2 separate regions of the Homo sapiens genome follow, and region 2 is linked to region 1. Evidence: fine-mapped expression QTL. Tissue or cell type: testis. Region 1 holds a variant in brackets; the other region holds the start of a gene. All regions are shown on one strand. Distances are from middle to middle.

What was found. PIP is the estimated chance that this variant, and not a neighbour inherited with it, causes the effect.
Region 2: MPPED2 starts here. The variant in region 1 is fine-mapped to the expression of MPPED2 in testis (GTEx, PIP above 0.99).

What each region holds. Positions count from the first base shown.
Region 1 is chr11:30,847,650-30,855,834 of GRCh38, reverse strand. The region is part of intron 3 of LOC107984419 (a long non-coding RNA gene); the gene reads left to right. Among named protein-coding and RNA genes, the nearest start is that of LINC02859, 120 kb to the right of the region's middle. The variant C/G (reference allele first, on the strand shown) is at 3,324.
Region 2 is chr11:30,583,226-30,591,410 of GRCh38, reverse strand. MPPED2 (metallophosphoesterase domain containing 2) reads left to right here and starts at 5,058. Exons shown (of 7, transcript NM_001584.3): 1 at 5,058-5,369. It overlaps MPPED2-AS1 (MPPED2 antisense RNA 1), which reads right to left and starts at 7,261. Exons shown (of 5, transcript NR_183760.1): 1 at 7,178-7,261. RefSeq lists a silencer at 5,104-5,153.

The sequences.
Region 1 (8,185 bases):
CAAACCTAAACCCTTTGATGGAGATATTTTCTTGTTTTAAATCGCCGCAGATGAAATGTTTAAAAGGAATTCCAAATTTTGGTCTCTTTCAAACTGACTCTGTGCTGAATATGTAACGTTACCTTTTAAATTTAGAGATTTTACTGGCTAAGATTTGTCACTTGGACCTCAAATTTTAGGAAGAAAATGCTAGATTATAATTCAAAAGATCAGTTTTACATTTTGTATGTAATATAGCCCACTAGGTGGCATATGAACACATGGAAAACTCGGTCTATGTATTAAAGATGAATCCAGTCTACTGTTTTAAAAATAGGTTTTAAATCCCGTTGAACTATGTGGTTGTAATAGTATTGAAACTCTTAGCATTTGTGAACTGGAAAATTTGGTGGTGACAGAACTGTGTTTCTGTATTAGATAAGAGATGTTCTAATAGAATCCTGCTGCTCCTTTTGATGGAATACCGTTCTGAAATTGCATCCAAGGATGAAAAAGTTGGTACCGTGGCACCCTGTCAAGTAGCTCCTGTTGCTGTGAGGTGTGATTAAAAGACACATAAGCCAGCAGAAAATGTGACACAAAGGGCATCTATATAAAAAATTAACAGACTACGTGATATCATTTAGGCCAGATTTAGAATCACAATAAAGACCTTGTTTTAGTCTGTTTTGTGCTACTATCACAGAATACCACAGACTGGGTAATTTATAATGAACAGAAATTTATTGGCTCACAGTTCTGGAAGCTGAAAAGTTGAGTATCAAGGTGATGGCACCTAACAAGTGTCTTCTGGCCGCATCATCACATGGCAGAAGGCGAGAGGGTGAGAGACGGAGCAAGAGGAGGCTAAAGGCACCCTTCCTAACAGTACCAATCCCACCATGGAGGTGGAGCCCTCATGGCCCTCAGCCCCCAGTACTGTTATGATAACAATTAAAATGTCAACATGAGTTTTGAAGGAGACAAACATTCAAACCATGGCAGCCCTCTTCCAGCATTCAGCATTTCTGGGCTAAGGAAATGGAAGCAGTTTGGATGAGGAAAGGAAGGCTTCCAGAAGAATCCCTCCTCCAGTGGGAGCAGAGCTGTGCCTGTTAAATGACATAGGTTTCTCCTTGACCAAACTCTACTCAGGCTCTTCTGAACTCTTTTTTTCAACTAGTCCTCTACTTTTGGACTTCTGTGTTCATCTTGGCATTGTCTAGCTCTAGCAAGAACACTGCTGGCCGAGCACGGTGGCTCACGCCTGTAATCCCAGCACTTTGGGACGCCGAGGAGGGCGGATCACAAGGTCAGGAGATCGAGACCATCCTGGCTAACACGGTAAAACCCCGTCTCTACTAAAAATACAAAAAAATTAGCCAGGCTCAATGGCGGGCACCTGTAGTCCCAGCTACTCGGGAGGCTGAGGCAGGATAATGGCGTGAACCCGGGAGGCAGAGCTTGCAGTGAGCCAAGGTCACGCCACTGCACTCCAGCCTGGGTGACAGAGCGAGGCTCTGTCTCAAAAAAAAAAAAAAAAGAACACTGCTAAGTCAGTTCAGCTATCCTCCATCTTTGATCACCTTTAATATCTAATCAGGTTCTTCATGCTCCACCATCCCTCAGGTGATGTCACCCTGGCCTGCCTTCAGCAAGAACCCCATTAGGTTGCTTTAGCTGCTATCGCCCTCTTATCCCTAATGTTTCCTCTTACCAGTTTTCACACTGAGCCTCTCTACCCCCCACAACTCTGCTTCTTGACTATAAATTTCCACTTTTCCTTGTTGTACTCAGAGTTGAGGCTACTGGGCTCAGAAAAAAATACCCCAGAGTATGGTGCTTTGACATGCTGGGGACTTTGATCTAAAGAAGCAGCATCAGAAACAAAGTCTCTCTGATCTCCCTCTCCCCTCAGTCCTGTTTCTCTCCTGAAGTGCAAGAAGGGGTTTTCTCTGAGTTTTTCCTCATCTGATTAAGAGAATTCCGTCCAGAAGGGCATGCAATTTTTGTAAACTCTTTCCCTGGAAACTACATTAACCAGAGAAGATTAATTCCTATGCAGGAGAGGAGACTAAAGGCCTCCAGGACCAGGATACACTGCCAGATAGACTTTTCACCTATTCTTCTGAGGGTAGTAACCCTCAGAAGGCTTTATCTGCATAATAAGACAACCTTTGTTTGCAATGCAGTTTCTCCCCTCACCCTCCTGTAGCTTGGCACCACTACCCTCCAGGAGCCTCTTTCTATAGCTCAAACTGCTATTTAAGCTTCAACCATCTGGCCCTTCTTTGAGTATCATATTTTGTATGGCTCCCATGCACATGTGCACATAATACATTTGTATTCCTTTTCTCCTGTTAATCTGTTTACTGTCAGTTTATTTCATAGACTCAAATTACCAAACCTTCAGAGGGAAAAAGGAAAAAGCTCCTTTCACCCCTACAGGTACAGTCACCTCTCTCCTGCACTGCAAAACCCCATCTCAGTTGTCCTACTCCTATTGCAATGGTCCTGAATAAAGTCAGTCTCACTGCCCTTTAACAAGCATCATGAATAATTTTTTCTTTAACACAACCTCTCAGCTGTGGCCCTTGTTCTGTTTAGATAACTAGCAATTTGGCCAAGAGTACATTTGAAGACCTCCTGCCATCTTTCGAACTTAATAAAAATAGCTTTAATAGCTACATGCTTTATGAAATAATATTTACCATCTTTGTTTAAAAATGTTCCGTTCTTTCAACATTTTACTCTAAGATCCTAGATCTTTAGAAAGTTTTTCTTGACTTTCTAGGCCTGGGTAAGTTACCCCCTGCGATGTGCTCCTATAACATCCTATGTTTCTGCTGTTATTGCCTCAATTACACAGGACCGTAACTACCTGTTTAAGACCTGTCTCCCCCTCTAGACTGAAAGCTCATTGAGGGTAGAGAACCTGGCTGCCCTGCTCACCACTATTTCCTCAGGGGGATGCATAGCAGTTCCTAGCACTAAAAAGGTATTTGCTGATTAAACAAAAATGACTTCCGAAGAAAGTGCATATATTGACCTCTAAATTAAAAGTCTTAAAATGTTTGCAAGGGATTCTCCATAACATAAAATTCAAAGTTATTCCCTTCCTTATATTCTCAGATTCCAGCCTCTATTTTTATGATGGTTCTGGCCTTCTGCTTTAAGTCACCACCAGAGCAAATAGCATCCAAAAACCGCCACCCAGAAATAACTTTGGGCTGTGCAAGCCAAATCAGAAGTATTCAATTAAATTAACATTTATTGACCACCAGTAAACATGAGAACCAAACTGTACAGAAAATATTTGGTATTTTATCCTCACCAGGGATGTT[C/G]CCCAGTGCATTATAATGTATCAAAATGTCTTATCATTTTTCTTTAATTAGATACCCTTGGATGGATGTACAAGAAACAGTGTACATTATGCAACAAAGTTTTTCTTAATTTTTGTCAAAGACAACCTTGCAAACAGGACTGGAGCTTCTAGCAGCTTCTGGCAAGGAAATTTTATAAATGAGAATTTGTAGCAGAGGTCACGAGTTTAGTCTCTGACATTGTATCAACTGGATTGGCATCCCAGCTCTACCACTTCCTGTCTTGAGACCTTGAGTACTTTATTTAACCTCTTATGAAGCTATAATTTTAAAAGGGTAAAAATAGCATTTATCTTATGGGGTTATTGGGAAGATTAAATGAAATAACATGCATAAGCTCTTAGCATAGTGGCTGGCCCATAGCAAGAGGTCAATAAACATTAGATATTATTATCATTATTATTTATCAGAATGGCTTTTCTTAGAAGCCTTTTGTAGTCAAAGACAGCCAAAATGAATATTCCATAGATTCTCTCATATATCTTTTGGTTCTGTCCATTAGACCCTGATATTGTTGCTGCAAATAAGTATACATGTGCCCCAAGAATATGCTAGGTTTTTGTATTGAAATCAGGAGCCACTGATAATCATCCGCCTCCTTTTCCTTTTTGGAATAACTTTTTCTCTCTATTATTCCCAAGATTAGGTGCTTCCCTCTATTTATTTAGTTATTCATCTGTCCAACAGACATTGATTGCTAAGTAGTAGGTTTTGTGAATGCATAAATTCTACTTCAGATAATCTGCAGTGTAGAGGGAAAAGTGAAACATGCACATACACATAACTTTAAAAGGTAGAAAGTGATGAGAGTCAGAGGGAAGAGACATAGCACAGTGGAATTCAGAGTGGGGAGTCGCTGCTGTACTATTTCAGGACTCACATTGTGTGCCCATATAGACAGAGAGATGCTAGAGAGGATACAAGAAAAATGGAAGCCACTGTTCTTGTGCTTGTTGGGGCTCGGAAAACAATATCCCGAAATGAAGGCCTCAGAAGCAAGTGTTTTTTTGACCTTCTCCTTCCCTCTTGTCTCTCAGTCCCATTCTCCCCTGAGGCTAGCTTTAGCCAAAGAAACTACAAATCCCTTTTCCCCAAGGTGGGACATAGAAACTAGAACCTCTTTGCCCACAAGCCCTTCATAAAACCTAAAAGTATTGCTCTAATTTTCCCTCTGCCTTTCAAAGTAAAAACTGCCCTAAAATAAATTATCTGACCTACCTTGTTTGACTGTAGTTCATAAGACTCCCCATTCTTGAGAAGGGCCTGCCCCACACCCAGAAGGAAGGAAAGCTGCACAAAGAAGCCAAGAAGGACCTAGACAGACCAGCCTCACTGGGTAACCCCACTTAGTCCACTAGCATTAGGTCATATCCTTTTTGTCTAATCATATTTCTACACAGCTGTTCATACTTTGTTAACCTAAGCATAAAAATGGACACTGTTCTCCTGTATCTGTCGGTCTTCATTCTGAATGCTCCTGTGTATGCACATTTAATAAATGTTTATGTATTTTCTCCAATTAATCTGCTTTTTGTGAGTTGATTTTTCAGCAAACCTTCAGAAGGCCAAGGGGAAAGCTCTCCCTTGTCCCCTACATGCTTAAGGTGTTTGGAAACTTGGAGGGAGACAAAACTCAAACCATGAGTGATTTCGGTCTATATCCCAGCGATTGCCCTGCCTGGCCCTCAACAGACCTTCTAGTTGGAGAAGGAAATATCCTGAAGAATATTTGTGAAAATGAAAACAAAAACACCAAGGCACCAATTTCATGCCTGGACGAGGATGTCTTGAGCTGAAGGAAGAAAATGAAAGCAACAGTTACGGCCTTATCACTATGAACAAGAAAGTCTTATAAGGGTGGAAACATTTTGCTTTATTTTTTTTGTCCCCATAGCACTTGGCTTCAAAGAACAAAAGATGGTGTTCACCAAGCAGACAACTTACCAAAGCCATTTTTTGAAATGATGCCCAATAATCAATATTAATTCAGTTTATATCAATGCATATTTATTAAATTCCTGGCATGATCAAGACATAGTGTTAGATGCTAGGGTAACACACAGACATAATGAAGACATATGATCTCTGCCTGCTCAACCCCAGGACACGACACTGAAGTCAAGTGGGTCAGATGAGATGAGATGGGCACAAATATCCATGCTACAAGGTTTAGTGTGGCAAGTCCTACAGGAGTAATATTAAGAAAAGAGCTGTGGAAGTACATAAAGCAGAGGGAAAGGATTTCTGTCTGGGTTACTGAGGAAGGCTTCATGGAGACAGTAGCGTTCCAACCAGGCCTTGAAGGATGGATGAGATATCAGAAGACTGTGTTGTAAGGAAGATCAATTTACGTGAAGGATGAATTTAAGCAGAGGTGTAGGCAGGGGATTGTCGAATGAATTGTAATATGGTCGAGTTAGAGAAGTGCTTTCCAATCTTTATGAAACCACAGGACCCTTCTTGAAGTGAGATTCTGCAGTGACCCACACTGTGCTTAGAACAGAGCTCTAGTCTAAAATCCTGGTTGCACTAGAAATTCACAAAGCCTGGTTTAATCCCCAGGGTTGAAAACCAGAGAATAGAAAGTCATCCTGGAAAGGCAGGGTGCAGCCTGCTTTGCATATCCAAGAGTAACTGTGGCCCCAGGGACAACCAGGAGCTTTGGGAGGTTTCTGAGCAGAGAAGTGACAAGATGAGCTATACTTTATGAGACTCCTCTGGCAATGATACATAAGATGGGTCAGAACAGGGGAAAACAACTTTATCTTGAAGCAATATAGGTTTATAGAAATTTAATAAGAAAATTATATATCATAATGAATCCCAAGAGCTATAAAAAGTGACCAAATCCACTGCCACAGTCCTGCAGAGGTTCTTTGTGACAGCCTTAGCTGCTAAGAAATTACCTCAGGCTGCAGCAGAGGAAAGAGTGCAGATTTTGTATTTCTAGAAACTAAGGTTGATGATGATATGGTTGAAGGCATGGGTTTTGAACTCACACAGACCTGTGTTTGAATTCCAGCTTTTAACAAAATTTCTTAAGCCCAAATGTCAATTCTCTCACCTGCAAAATCAAGATCGTATCAGCTTTGTAAGATTATTGTAGGGATTAAGTGAAGTCATTTATTTAAAGTGTTGAGCATAATGCTTAGCAATAGTTAGCACTCAAAACATAATTATTCTCCAAGACAAATTAAGTTACCACATTAAGAAGAGTGGGTGCCAGGTAGAATAGCAGAATCATTTACACTGATGTGGTTGCTGGGTTTCCCTTTGCTGATGCAAGCCTAGCCCTGTGCTGGATACTTTCTTCTCTTTGTTGAGCAGGGTTTCCACCAGCAAAGGCCTATTCCAAGGGCCCCAAAGACATTACTCACTTTCATTCCCACCCTCATTTAGTGGAGAGGCTCCTGTCTCTCATGTGTTGATCTGCACAACTAGTTTAGCAAGTTGAGCCTACAACAGAATTCCTAAGCAACAAAAGAGAGAAATGATTTTGTCCATACTATCAAGAAGCATGCTTTGTGGTTACTGTTAAGATAGATTGTGCAGCAAATTGGTGAAGGCCACATGGTGTGTCAGGGTGTATGTGCAGTAATTGAAAAGTATTGCTTGCACACTTTCAGAATCCGGGAAATCTCCTAGCAGACAATGGCATCAAGGAATAAACTGTATCATAAAGGATGGATTTTAGCTGCATCCAGGACAAATGTCGCACACATGCCTGGGGGGGGCGGGTCTAGGAAGGGCTGATGTTCCTGTTTTCCATGAGGCAGAGAGAAGTAAGGAACTTTGTCAAAAACAGCCTCTGTGCTCTCATTTCCTATTTTTAATTTGGCTCATCATTTTAAGCTTCCTCAGATGCCCACCTGGAGAGTCATGGCACGCTCTCACTCTGGTGCTTCCCAAATGTGTCCAGAATCTTCATCAATCTCTCTTGCTAATCCTCACTCCCAAGGCTTAAATCACCCATTTCCTCCAAAGTCTCTCATCTAGCTGGCAGTTGCACCACATTTCCACAATCACTAAATGCAGAAGGCTGAGTGAAGACTTTGTTTGCCTTATGAATTTGTTCTTTGGTGTCCTTGGCTTGGGTCTGAGTGGATGAGCTTTGATTAGATTTCAGAACTGAGATTGAGTTCCTATGGACTCTATTGGGAGCCAGAAGAAGAATGAAGTGACAGAGGGACTGCTGATCTTTGACCTTGGCCCATTGATGGCTCTTGTCATCACTGTTGGTGGCTGCTCTGAACAAAAAATGCATTGTCTCCCCAGCTATTGTGGCCTGGCCTTCACAGTCTGTCTTCGCAGGATGTAACGTTTAATCAGGGATGTGTTCTTCTACCTAGGGCAAAAGGTGGGTGAGGAAGGCAGATCAAGCAAGTTAGCAGTACTCCACAGACTCAGAACTTGAGAAGGAAACATTAGGGAACATGATAATGTTAATAGGAATGAGTTAAAAATTAATATTCACTGCAGTTGCAATATATTAGACATTTACATTGGTTATTTCACTTAATCCTCTCAACTACCCTGGGAAGTTGGTACTCTCTCACTTTTTAGATTAAAAAATCTGATGTTTCATCCTTTTCTCTTTAACATAGGAAACAAACTAGGTAGATCTATGATTCTATGATTTGATCCCAGGCATTGAATCCAGAGTGTGGGAATATAACTACTACTTGGCATTACTCTCATGAATCAGGAGGGCAGTTGAAAACTAAAGTGTCTTTAGAAGCTCTCCTAACTCCTCTGGAATCAGGAAGTCAAAAGCATTCTCTGCGAAAAGTTTCTTACGTTCCTTTCCCACTGTCTACATAGTC
Region 2 (8,185 bases), 260 kb after region 1:
CCTTTACACAGCCATAATTTGCATTCATTTATGTGATGCTTTAAGTCACTGTCTCCCATCCCCCTGAGATTGTATACTTAATAATGTGGAAAGAACTCTGCTTTTTTTACATCATTAGACCATAAGCATGGTTTAAGAACTATGCCCCACACAGAGCAGAGCTTAAAAATATTTGTTGAATACTGAATCAAGCCATTACATTAATAATATAGTGAGAAAAAGGTTTTATATTCTGCTGGTCTCTCAAACTCAGTTTTAAAAAATTGTATCCATTCATTGATTTATTTTTGCTGAGAAAGAAAGTTACATTATATATTGCTTTCTTGAAATACAGATATCTTATGCTAGATTGCCAAATTGAATTATTAAACTTGGAAATGCTCACATACCTTTTCTTTACCAGGTTTTAATGGGGTTTCTATACTGCTCATCTTTCAAGAGAGATTATTTTGAGTTTACTTCAATGAGAAAGCTCTTTTCCACCATGACAAGCCTATCCCAAGTACGACAAAATTTTACCATTTTCCCAAAATTGGGACCATGACATGGGGAAAGACTCAGCAAGCATTAATTGATTTAAAATGAGAAAAGAACTTTTATTGAGGAATGTGAGTCCTTTTAAATTATCAGGCCTAGAAAGACATTAAAATGAGACAGCAAGTCCATCCTAACCCCCAGCTTTTGAGCTATGTATTCATCTCTTGAAATAGCTTGTTATTGTCCCTAGCAGCTATAAATTAACTAATAATGCTGCACTGGAAACTATAACTCACAGCCTATAGCTTAACAATGTCTAGCCAACCACTAATCAATGCTTTTCTGTAAACCAATGAGAATTCTTTACAGAGAACTTTGTGTCAGCCTACTCCCTGTCCCCCATATTTGGCTTTAAAAATTTGCTTGTAACAAAGGCCAAAGGAAGCTCATATCCAATGTTACCTGGGTGTGAATCTTCCAGGCAGTTGTCCTCACACTTTGGCTCAAGTAAACTCTTTAAATTATATTTTGTGCCATAGCCTATTCCCTTTAGGTCAACACAGAGATTATGGATGTCTGTTAGAATGGTTACTAACACTAAGAACACATGAATCCAGACTCAGTATCATGTTCAGACTTTTAAAATTAATTATTGCATAAATAATTTTCATCTGATTTCTTGATACATGCTAGATATTGGCTAGTAAGTATGTTAAGAATTTGTGAGTGTTTTGCTAAATTTTAAGATTCTTCCCCAATGCTTGCTACTTAAGCTGCAGGCAAAACTGAATTAAATTTAGCCTTTCTAAGATGATAATGAGCATGACATTTATTTTATGAAATGAAATTTGATCAGTTCTAGTGTTTCCTGATTCTTTTTTTTTTTTTGACCCATAAACATTTTTACTGGTTAACCAAAGAAAATTTTCAATACAAAGTACCACCCTTGAAAAAAAATCATATATTTATTTTGAGGATTTCAAAAAGGATCAATCAAGGAATTAGATTAATTATATAAGTTTCTTTTGAGAATGGCTTGATACATTTCTGTACATTTTAAGGAACAAGTTTTACTTGGAATTCTTTTTATTGTGGCATCCTGCTGTATTTAAAAAGAGGGCTGCCTTTAAATGGACATGATACATAACAAGCTTGTCTCTCTATAAGAAAATTAATTTGTAAAACAGTCTTAGGATTATTCCATATTTCTAAAGGCATTAGCAAGACCTTTAAAATGTGCTATTTTAACTCCTTGGGAAGTCCTTAGCTCTTATCCTACAACACTGCCTCATGACATCACTTCCTCTCCCACAGATCTGGTGTGGATTTTTCTTAATTCTGTATTTGCCTCATTCACTGGTGTGTTCTCTTCTTTACTTTCTCATTTATTGACCCACACAGTCATTTAACAACTATTTCCAACATAAAGATAAAGAACTCAAAGAAATATAGGACATTGTTATTCAACTTGGAGGGGTCATAATAAAAACATTTGAATGAACATAAGAACTGTGAGAATTCAGAAAAATAAAATAGTTTGTTGAGTTTTATTTTCTAATTACATCATAGTGGTAGTTCTATTAAGAGGCTCTGATTTCTGATAATATACATCTTAGCCTTTGCTGTAAAATGATAGAAATGCTTACAACTTACAGAAAAAAAGAAATAAAATAGTTGCTGTTTGTTCCTGCAGTTAGACTGGTACATATCATTTCAATGAAATTATTCAATAACATGCAGTAATTTCAATGGATTGCTTTTTAGAAGAAGAACCACAGTATTGAACCAAGTTTTAAGTCATACACATCTCTGAAGTACAGGAAAACCTGTTCTCATAGGGAAGATGAAAGCCAACTCCAAATAAAGTATTGAGCTTTCAAGGGAAGCATCATTTTCTTTCCAAGCTTCCACCCAAAGTTCTCCCACGCTCCTCTTTCTCATTTTCTTTCCTAAATGCATTCTGAAAAGATAATTTAAAAGGTATTGCAGTGGGCTATCAGGAAGCATATTTACCAGTTCCTTCAATGAAATCACTGGGGAAAGGGTCCAGCTTTGAATTCCATTAAAAGAAAAAAATTGTAATATTTCCTTGAAGCCAATCATAAACTTAGTATTTGATTTTCATCCTTCTTTTCTTTTCCATTATACACAATAAAAGTTGAATTTAACAACAACAACGAAAATGGAACTTATAGACTCACTTATCTTTAAAAAAAAGCTGAAGCTTATAGGATTTAAAATTTGATATAATGAGGTAACATTTCAAAGCTTATATGGGAGATGGGATAGACATGGTTCACATCCAATAATTTTAAATTAAGCTTTTAGTGTAGGTAGCTGTATTTGTAGACAATATGATTTAACAAAATGCAATATGTTCAAATCCACGTAAAGAGAATTATTTGAAAAGTGAGTGTCTTTTTGTTCCTGGTTTATTATTTAAATTCATTTTCATATCTCCAGCTTGCTAGTAGCCTAATGAAAATAAAATTTCATAATCCAAATATAACTTGGTCACTATTGGATAATTGATCTATCAGCAGGTTGACTTCTTCCAGCACTACAAATTACAATTTTAAGCCTTTTTACCTCAATTTTCCCCACTCAGTAAAATGGTATACAAATTTCCATCAACTTTGTAATGGATAACCCACTTGATTTTTTATGGCATTAAGTATCCTGTAAAATGTACCACTAAAGTAGAAAGCATTATTATTTACTGTCTGGGTGCACATATTTAGATTCAGAATCATGTTCAAACTAGTTTGTCTGTTTTGTTTGACTGCAATTTTTTTTAAAGAAGGAAACCACAGAAATTATTTGGCTGGTGATGCTTTTTTTTTTTTGAACTGATTAAATCAGCCCAAATCAGTCTAAAAATTCAAACTATTAAGATATGAGGAATGTAGTACTCAGTCACAGAGTAAAGGAAACAAAACCAAGCATTTCTTCAAAAACGTGATTCTAGTCAGTGTTCGCTGATGGGCTAGAAAACAAAAGAAAACAAAATTTAAAGGTGCCTCTATGCCCCCATCTTTGGCATCCTTTAATGTCAATGTCACTTGTTCTGATTTGTGCTGGGCAAGGAAAGACACTGTCCTTTCCACCCCAGCACATTTGACAAGCACTGACACTCTGGGCATGCTGTAAAATAAAATAAATACATTAGTAAGACCATTTCCCTTTTCATTTCAGCCTAGGCATAAGAGATGGGTTACTTAAAATTCAAGTGCCAGGAAAGCCCATTGTAAAAGGGAAATATTTTCAAGTGAATTCCGTTTGATCTTTTTTTATAGGGGCTCCTACAAGCCTCTCTCCCTTCCTCCCCAGACCCTGGAAACCAATTAGTCTCAGCACAGAGGCCACAGACCAGGTTGCAATGGCTCCTTTTTATTTTTAGGGGGTATAATTTCAGCCAGGATGTCTAGTCAGTTGTCACATAGTATACTTAGCACACTTCTCTCTCACACACATATATATACATTGGATTTCCCTTCAGAGAATGCACAGATCTTTCAGTCTGACTCCTAGAAAGGAATTAGATCTGGTTGCTGTCCCAATCTTTCAGCAATGACAATGGCATAACATCACAGGGCCACCTCATCTTTCACAGACAACCCTGCCAACCAAGTTTTCTAAAAGCCTTCTCTCCCTTGTTTTCTGTCTTCCAGCATTTCAGCGGCATTTCCTTTCCTTGTGTTGTTTGTACAAAATTCTGAAAACCTTTTCTTCCATTTTCCAAAGTAGCAGACAAAACTGGACTAAGTTTGATTTTTAAAATGCTTTTGACATGCTTATCTTTTGGGGAAAATTTTATCCAAAAGACGAAAATGGAAACAATTAGAGTCTTTGCCTCTCCTCACCTTCCTGTCCTGAATCTGCCTTAATTCATGGAGGTAAAAAAAATGATCAGCTGGGTTGGCCTTTTCTTTCTCAGCAACATTGCAGAGAGAAAGAGGTGAGTGTGTGAGTGAGTGAGTGAGCGTGTGTGTGTGTGTGTGTGTCTGTCGTGTTGAAAGGCTTGGGGAAAAAGGAGCACAGCTCTCCCCCAGGAAAGCCTCAGATCAGCAGATGGGAGGGAACCTAGGGTCGCCTTCCTAGGTCTGAGCGAAGTGTCCCAGCCGCTCCCCTTACCCCTGCGGTGAGCCCTGCGTCCTGGAACGGTGCCAGGACTCCTGACAGAGCCTGGCAGGTCGGTGGGTGGCGGGGAGCTGGGTGTTCTCTTTGCAGAAGAACACCATTTGGGAGAAAGCTCCCTTCTTTTCCTGGGGCACCGTAGCCCGCCTTCCTTCCCCTATCATTTTTTACGCAGATCGCACTCATGATGATGAACTTGCAGCTCAGCTTCCTGCCGCCTGCTTGACCCGGGAGCACCAGCAGGCTACCGGGCCTCGCCCTCGGCTCCCTCCTCCTCTCGAAACCCTGGGGCTTCGGGGCACCGGTGGGGGTCCGAGTGGGCAGGGACTGCGGGAGGGGCGTGCAGGGGCGCGGGGTCCCGCCGGGGAGCGCGCACGGAGCGGCGCCTCGGCCGCCCTGCTTCCTGGAGCTGTGCTCCTTTGACCCCAGTGGCAGTCCCTGTCACTGCACCGCTCGCTCTCCCTCCGGCTCGCCGCGCCCTCGCTCCCTCTCCTCGCCCCCTCGCTCGCTCTCTCCCCAGATCGAGGCTGCTCGGGTCCTTTCTCCCCCCGCCTCCCTCTAGCGCCGCGCCCCCTGGCCCCCAGCCCCAGCCTGCGGCGGGACCTCCGGGGTCGAAGGTTCTGGCCCGCTCGCGCCCCTCGCCGCCCCCGCGCGCCCCCAGCGCTCCTCCAGCCGGCTCGGGCCGCTCGGCTATGGATCGCCTGCTCGCCGGGCGCTGAAGGCATCCCCGGGATCCGGAGCGCAGCCCGGGAAAGGTAATCCGCCCCGGGAAGGGAGGCGGAGGGCGGGGGAGGGGGAGGAGGCGGCCGGGAGCCCGGTGCCGAGCACTAGAGGAAGGGAAAAAAATGCACACACAAAGCGGAGCCCGGGTGAGAGGTGCCTTGTCAGAGGCGCGTGCGAGGGGCTCGGAGGCTGCGGACCCGGGCTGCCCCGGTGCCCCTGACATCCGCACGAGCGGGCGCCTCCCGGGCAATTCGGCGCTCGGGGAGGGCTGATTTTCAACCCCTGAGCGAAAGCAAATTCTTTTTTAGGAGGTGTCTTCCCTCCGACTCCCCATCCTGCGCCTCTTCTCTTCTCCACCCCCTCCAGCCATCAGTCCCCCGACCTCTGGGGGTCCCCACCTCTTCGCTCCCTCCTCCGCCAGGATTTCTTAGGAGGAGAGGAGGGGGTATCGGCGAGAAGCTGGGGAAGCCGGGCGGCGGGGATGGGGGTGGGGACGAGGGCTCAGCGAGCTGTTTACTAGAAAGTCCCGGGGTGATGTGTTCGAGCCGCCCCGGCCTAGGCCTGGGTGCATTGTGTTGGCCCGATCCCCGGGCTCCCGCGGCGGCCCGAGGCCAGGTGCAGTGACGAGGGGAAGGCACCGCGCAGCTTTGTGCTCCGGCTGCGCCCCGCGGCCGCCCCCGGGGCCGCCCGCGCGCGCCGCTCTCGCTCGGGGCTCTTTCTCACCCCGTCCCCGCGCCCCAACCTCACTCTCCGCCGCTGCCTGGGTCTCCGCGCTCGCAGCCTGCGGAGCGACCCGGCGACCCAAGCTGGGGTCGAGGCTAGGCGACGGGGGACGAGTACCGAGGAAAAGTAACCGTTGCCGCCGGATTTCTTCTCTACAGAGGCAGGAGTTTCTTTGCTATTTACGTATAACAAGGTTATCTTTGTAAAGCCTTTGAATTCCGGGGTTTTGCGGCCTAGGAGGTGAAGGGGGCATTTTTCTAGAGGCTCAGGAGCCGGTTGGAATCCGTCAGCAAGAAAATAAATTAAGGATGCCCCAGTGAAGTTGATTTATAATAGTACATCACCACCCCCCTCTCACACACACACCCCAAATTAAGTGCAAATGCGGGTCATGAAAAATGTATAATTGATTTGAGATGCTGCAAACAAACACAAACAGGTCGGGGGGGTGGGACAAACAAAAGTTTAAGTGAAAAAAGATGTCAGAAGAGGGGGAGATCCCGTGGCCTCCACACCCCCTTCCAACGCTCGCTGGCTCCCTCCCTTCCTTTCTCCGCCGTTCCAGGGAAGGAACCTGGCAGCGCCCAGGCGTAGAGCAGGGAGGAGGCGGCGGCCCCGGGCTCGGGCTCAGCGCTGTGGGTTCGGGGATGCCAACGCGCCCGGGAGGCTGAGGTCGGGGACGTGGGGCTGTGATGCCCGACCGAGGATGGCGTGGTGTCAGAGCCATTGGCCGCCGGTGGTCATCAATCAATCCAGAGCTAGGGAAGAGGGAGAGAAAAAAGATAGGCGTCCAGCGGAGCCCGGGGCCGCCAGCGCTAGCGCCAGCAGTGCCAGCAGGAGCGGCGGCCGAGGAGGTGACGGAGGTGGCAACGGGGGACTGAGCGAGTAAGGCGCTGGTGTTTCAGGAAGGAAGGGGAAGTTGTAGCCGGGAAGAGCCAGCCGTGAGCCTAGAAGGGCAGGGCGAGTGTATGTGGTGTGTGTGTGTGTGTGTGTGTGTGTGTGTGTGTGTAGTTCATAAAGCACCCCCCACCCCGCCTCGCGCAACTGCCCACCACCCTAGATTTAAAACAAACAAACCAATCCAAAGTAGAGAATTCCGCGCCCCCCACCGCCCCACCTTATATAGACTCCACGAGTTGCCAGAGGCTCCGGAGAAAAGTCTTGCCCTCCCTCTCCGAAAGAATGTGTCACCCGGGTGTCCGCAGTGCTGGAGACAAGTTCAGGTGTAAGTGCGGTGGGAGGGAGGGCGCTCGGTGGACAGAAGCACGTGGAACTTTATGTCAGCCTCCCCCAAAAAAACCCTGGCGGAGAAGCCCGCCGGGAAGGCGTGTGGGCATCGCTCCCAGATACAGGGATGAGTAACTGGAAGTGGGCATAAAAGAGTAGGGGCGTGAATTAAGAACGCACTGGATCTGCGCGGCAGAGGGAGGAGAGAGCGAAATTTGGCGGATTTGGAGCAGGCAAGTTCCAAAGTCCCGCCAGGCTCGGTCTGGAGATCTTGGGGCAAGTGATTAAAATGAGCATCCTTGTTGAAACGAGAAAACCGCGGGCTCTTTTCTCATAGGCTGTGCTGGGCAGTGCAGGGGTAGAGAGGTCATGAGTTGTTGCTTTGAAAGTTTTGGTAAATTGGACTTCTGGTGTCTAGGAGGTGGAGACAGTTATTTAATTCCTCAGCTTTTAATCCCTTCATTGCCAGCCGACTTTAAAAGGTTTTCCAACTAGATTCCTGGAAAAGAATATTGCTAGTTGTACAGCTTAAAGGACAGAAGTGATTGCTGTCTAGGAAATGCAAAATGTACTCACATGATTTTCTTTTTAAAGAGAAAAATCAAACTAGCACCAGCATGAATGTTTGGCAGTGTCAGTCCCTTTTAGATTTTTCTTTCGGCTTCTTGATATTTCGTCCTGGGTTCCTTTGTTTTGTGGAAAGTGTGTTGAAGTATAAAATGAAAATTTATGAAAAGAATAGTGCTGTCTTTAAATATTGTGTGTAAAAAGTTAAAGTAAGTGTGAAGAGGGTGAGATGCACGAAAATCTGATCATTTGGAAGGTTTTACTGCCTAAATATACATCTTCTTGATAGTTGTAAGCAGTGTATCCTTCTGTCTTGTTTCAAGCTCTCTCC